Linked DNA regions of Homo sapiens: region 2 is linked to region 1. Evidence: fine-mapped expression QTL. A gene starts in region 1. The other region holds a variant in brackets. All regions are shown on one strand. Distances are from middle to middle.

Region 1 (2,758 bases):
TCTGATTGAATTTCTCCAAATAAGCACCTTCAGTAACCCAGCTCCACCTACTCGGCAACATCTGAACAAACTCAGCTCCGCACCCAAAGCCCTTCTAGTTCCATCCTAAGTCAATGCTTCTCAAACTTTAAAGTGCATCAGAATCACCTGGAGGGGCTGTTAAAATGCAGATTCCTGGCCCCAGCTTCCAGAGAGTGCTCCTCAGTTGGTCTGGGGTGGGGACCCCAAACTTGCATTTTTAACAAGTTTCCAGGTGAGGCTGATGCTGGTGGCTTGTGGACCACAGCTTAGGTAGCACTGGCTAAGATACCTTATCCCAGGACCCTTCATGCACTCTCCCTCCATCCAGGGAGCTGCTTACTCTGCCCTCAGCACCCCATGCGCTTGAGCCTTTGCCCAGCCTGGTCCTGGTCCAGGAATTCCCTGCTGCCAAGTCTGATGCAATGGGTCAGATCCTGGAACCTCCTAACTCAGGATAAAGTTGAGAGGTTGTGCTGCTTTTTAAAGGGAAAGCCTTATTGGGATTTGAACCAGAACTGGAAGGACTGTAGTAAAATGCAGATATTTGGGCCCACCCCCAGATACAGGCCTCGCTGTGGGACATGCTGCTATGGTCACTTTCTCCATGTACAGATGAACAAAGGGTGGCCCAGAGATAGGAAGTGACTTTCCCAAGGGCACACAGCACATTAGACGAGAGGCTGAAGAGGAAGTCAAGTTTCAAGTCTCCCTCCTGCGCAGTTCTGTGCTTCTTGTGCTGCCTTTTCCAAGCTTAAGGGGCTCTGCTTTTTCCCCTTCCCTCATTCTACTTTCTTGTGACCCCAGCTGGGCCCCAGCATTTCCAGCTGATGCTGAAATGGAGCCTCAGGGGGCTGTAAAACTTGGAAAAGGAAGAAGAGTAGAGGAAGGGGCAAGAAAATGAGAGGAAGAGAGCCAGGCGTGGTGGCTCATGCCTGTAATCCCAGCACTTTGGGAGGCCAAGGCGGGCGGATCACGAGGTCAGGATATCGAGACCATCCTGGCCAACATGGTGAAACTCAGTCTTTACTAACAATACAAAAATTAGCCGGGCGTGGTGGCACATGCCTGTAGTCCCAGAGAGGATGAGGCAGGAGAATTGCTTGAACCCAGGAGGCGGAGGCTGCAGTGAGCTGAGATCGCGCCACTGCGCTGCAGCCTGGCAAGAGAGCAAGACTCCATCTCAAAAAAAAAAAAAAAAAAAGAAAATGAGGGGAAGAGATAAAACCCTTTGTGGTGAAGGGAGGAAGGAATGGGAAGTCACCCAAGGCTGTCCAGGGAGCTGGGGGTGGGGCTGTTTCTGGAACCTAAGCACACGTACCACCTCCCCTTCCTCTGACCTAATGAGGGCTCGAGTTGGAAACCACAAACCCTCGTTGGCCCCACAGGAGCCAGCCTCTGGCTTCTCTCTGCAATGGCCATGTGCTGCAGACCCGGAGTGGGTAGTTAGTTGGTTAATGCCAGTCTTCCTCCCCTGGACACTGAGTTCTGCTGACAGCCCCCGCCCAGCCAGAGCTCTGCTGTATACCACCGGGAGTGGGGCTGGTGTGGAGCCTGGAGGTCGCCCGCTGCCCTCCTAGGGCTGCTCCAGACAGCATTAAAACGCTGCAGGTCGCAGGTGAGACTAACAGCTGGGAGAGCTGCTCCAGGCATTTAGGACCCTGACTGGGGCAGATGAGTCAGCCCAGTGGGGGCAGGGCTCCTGGAACGAGGATCTACAGTTGGAGTTGCCCCACTGTCATGTCACCTGGAGAAAAACTGGACCCAATTCCTGACAGCTTCATTCTGCAACCACCAGTCTTCCACCCGGTGAGTTGTCACTCTAATGTGGAACCTCCTCGGTCTCTGGGCTCTTCCCTTCCAACTGGGCCCACACTCCTGGGTGGTGGGGTGGAAAGGACCTCAGTCTTTCTGCTTCTCCCAGCACCTGCCCTGGGTTCTGGAAGGCCCTCCTGAGCTTAGTAAAGTGGCTGACTGCTAATTCCCACTTGGGTGTAAATGACTGCTAGGCTTCCAGGGTCACTGCATTTTGAAAGTGGCGAAGCCTGGAGCCACAGTGCTCTGCCCCTACTGTAATGGATGCTAGGAGGATGAGGGTGTGGGGGTAGGATTGTTGGGGGAATGCTGATTACTTAGTAAGGACAGTCTCATCCCCAGCCTGGAAGGAAGGGTCAGGTGGGAATTTCCACTCAGGGATAGGGGTTGGGGGTGTTTCTCTCTTTCTCCTCCAGCTCAGTCAGTGCCCAAGAGGTTTTCTGAAGCCAGGCAATGATTTACAGAAGGCTGAATTCCCAGCAGACACCCCCTACTAATGAGCATTAATTATCACTTTCCCTTACTTGGCCCTCCCCTCCCATGAGAGCTGCATCCACTCAGTTAATTACAGGCCTGGAGGGAGCCTGGGAATGGGAAGTGATCAACTGCTGAACCAACCAGCTGAGCTTGCCAAGCTGGCATCCCAAGCCTCCCTCCCATGCTTCTCAGGTGCCTGAGGAATGGGCTGAAGCAGCTGCCCAGGTTACGGCAGCTCCTTGCTTTAGAGGCTGAGAGCTCGCACCTGGAGGGCCATCCTGGTGGTTTTCAGTTTTTTCTAGGTGGTTTGGGTTCCTAAAGGTTGTTGGGAGTTAGAGAGCAACACAGGAAGGCCAATCCTGTGATACCACTGGTATGTACCTGCCATCCTGCTCACATTCATTCCAAACACATCTATGCAGAGCCCTCACGGCGTCAGGTGAGGCAC
Region 2 (3,016 bases), 930 kb after region 1:
TTCTCCCACCTCAGCCTCCTGAGTAGCTGGGACCACAGGCATGCACCACCACACCCAGCTAATTTTTGTATTTTTACTAGAGATGGGGTTTCACCATGTTGGCCAGGCTGGTCTTGAACTCCTGACCTCAGGTGATCCACCCACCTCAGCCTCCCAAAGTGCTGGGATTACAGGCATGAGCCACTGCGCCCGTCCGAGAGCCACCATTTAATGAGCACTTACTATGTGTGGGACAGACCGAGGGCCACTCAGCGCTGCAGGCCAGTGACCTCACAGATCCTTGTAAGAGCTCCCTGAATGGGCGTGCCCTTCAACCTGCTTCACAGATGTAGGGATGGAGGCCCAGCAAGGTCGAGCCACTTGTCCAAGGTCATGCAAAGTGCCGCCTGCCATCTAACTGCAGAACCAATTCAGACATTCGCCCTTGCCAAGCCCCGTCTTGCTGGGAGTTGCTCTGGCAATGAGTACTCCTTGTTGTTTTATTATTTACCTCCAGCTGTGCACCTGGATTTGTTGGGTGACCCATAAGACATAAAGGATGGAGGAGTCCTACTCCAGGCTGGTGCCTGAGTCCTGATTGTGTGTGGGGCCCCCTGCCCCCCACCCCACCCTGGGGCACTCAAGGCAGATCTGAGTTCTGATTGGCTGGACTGGCTTTGGGTGGGGCTGGTCTAGACGTGGTCAGTCTTGCACATTCACAGAAGTGCTCAGTGCAGTCACTGCCTGGGCAGTGGAGCTGGTGCTGTCTTTGGCATTCTCCCCAGTGTGGAACAGACTTTATTTGTTCTGCAATAGTATCTGACAGCATCCGGTTTAATGCATGCATGGAGGAAATACCCCTAAACATAGTGTCCCCCTCATCAGAAACAATGGCTGGACACGTGTGAACATTTAGGAGGTGTTGCTTAAGCAAACCAAGCTCTTACGAATGTGGGGAGGGAACACCATTCCCTACAATGATTGTGCCGTGTGAGCTCTGGTTACAAGGAAAGGGGTCCAGGGTGGGCCCGGGAGGTTCCTGTCCATGCCGAGCCTGGCTCACATCAGGGCAAGATCACCTCCACCCAAGGTGGGCTTGGGTGGACCTACTGGCCACCTCTCAGGAACTCAGAACAGCACTGGGTGCTTTTGTCTGGGATTTCAACACATCCCTCCAAGAACCTTGCGAGGCAGGGAGCATTGTAATCCCCATTTCACAGGTGAGGCAGTTGAGGCTCCGCTCACCTTGCCCATTCAAGGTCACGTAGGTGTTTTCCTAAATGGAGCCAGGATTAACATGCTGGTCTGGGAACCTTCTGTTCTCTTCCCAACTGACAAGGAAACTTCACTATCACGGATTCATTAAGACCTTAGATT[A/G]TATTTTCTCTGATCACAAGGGTAATATGTCGTGATTTCTAAAATAGAGACGTTAGAAAATATAGAGAAAAAGAAAAACATAAAAGTCACTGTGCCCCTATTCAGAGATAAAAGATGCCTATTCTTAGACTAGTGACTCTCCGACGGGAGCACGTGTGAGACTCACCTGGAGGGCTTGTTAAAGACACAGATTCCCTGGCCCCATCCTGAGTGTCTGAGTCGGTAGACCTGGGTAAGGGCTAAGGATTTATGTTTTTAATGATTCCTGGGTGATTCCTTTCTTTGGGACAACTGCTTAGATTAGGGTCTGTCAACCTCAGCACCATTGGCACTTGGGGCCTGCGGGTTCTCTGCTGCAGGGCTGTCTTGTACACTGCTGGGTGGTTAGCAACGTCCATAGCCTCTACCCTCTAGATGCCAGAAGCACATTCCCCCTGAGCTGTGACAGCCAGAAATGTCTCCAGACATTACCAAATGTCCCCTGGGGTGGGGAGCAAAACTGTTCCCAGTGAGCAGTCCTGTTCTATTCTTGTTTTCTTTTTTTGTTGTTTCTTTTTGAGATGGAGTCTCGCTCTGTCACCCAGGCTGGAGTGCAGTGGTGTGATCTTGACTCACTGCAACCTCTTCCTCCTGAGTTCAAGCGCTTCTCTTGGCTCAGCCTCCTGAGTAGCTGGGATTACAGGCACCCGCCACCACATCCGGCTAATTTTTGTATTTTTAGTAGAGACAGGGTTTCACCATGTTGGCCAGGCTGATCTCGAACTCCTGACCTCAGGTGATCCACCCACCTCGGCCTCCCAAAGTGCTGGGATTACAGGTGTGAGCCACCGCGCCTGGCCTCTATTCTTGTTTTCCATGTCCATTTATATTCGCACAGAGAGACACTCCTCCGTCACACACATGCACATATACACATGAACACATGCATGCACACACATGCAGAACACACATGAACATACATACATATTTTTCTTTGAGAATAATGTCAAACTATAAATACAGTTTTATAACTTGCTCTTTTTCACCTAACAACACATTGCCAATTAACTCAGCAATTAGCTTTGCTGGCAGCAAAGAGAAACAGGTTTTCTGCACAGATGATGTGGGAAGCATCACTGAGAGCCTACCACATGGCTCTGGGCCAGGAAGCGGGCAGCGGAGGGGGCACCTTTCAGATCCACCATCCTCTCCTCGGTGCAGGTGCAGGAAACTCCAACTTCGGGCAGGTGTGTCCACCTCTTACAAAGCTCTCTGTCTGGCTTCCAAAAGCTCTGGACTTAGCTTATAAGAAAAATGAGTCATCTGACAACATGGTTGTGAACTAGGACAGAGGTACTCAGGGATGCAGGGCTGTTCTCTCCAGACTTGCACCATCTTCCCCCCTCAGTGGGTTCTAGAAGTGGACCAAGAGACCCCAAGCTGGTGCAGAGTGAGTGTCCCCGGCTCTCCCCTGTTTGCCTGGGGGTGGCCAGGCTGGGACTGCATCAGGCAATGGCTGTGGCTATTGTCAGGCAGGCAGGCTGCCCACCACACAGGCATGAAAAAGGCCCTGGAGGGGGTTCCTGGGGCCTTCTATGGGATGCTGGCTTTTGCTATTCCGGTTATCCCTGAGGTCTCCTTGGCTGTCAGCCTCATGGTTCATTGTCTCCAAGCCAGGAAT

Direction of the effects. Positions count from the first base shown, and alleles are read on the strand shown. Sizes are in standard deviations (SD) of each study's normalised expression.
For the expression in breast of the gene that starts at base 1,384 in region 1, G is the low allele of the variant in region 2 and A is the other (moderate effect, 0.47 SD a copy in GTEx).

Evidence for each region.
Region 2: its variant is fine-mapped to the expression of LGALS12 in breast (GTEx, PIP 0.98).

The regions. Positions count from the first base shown.
Region 1 is chr11:63,504,701-63,507,458 of GRCh38, forward strand. It overlaps LGALS12 (galectin 12), which reads left to right and starts at 1,384. Exons shown (of 9, transcript NM_033101.4): 1 at 1,384-1,827. The coding sequence starts at 1,759.
Region 2 is chr11:64,433,646-64,436,661 of GRCh38, forward strand. No RefSeq gene overlaps it. Among named protein-coding and RNA genes, the nearest start is that of LINC02724, 14 kb to the right of the region's middle. The variant A/G (reference allele first, on the strand shown) is at 1,357.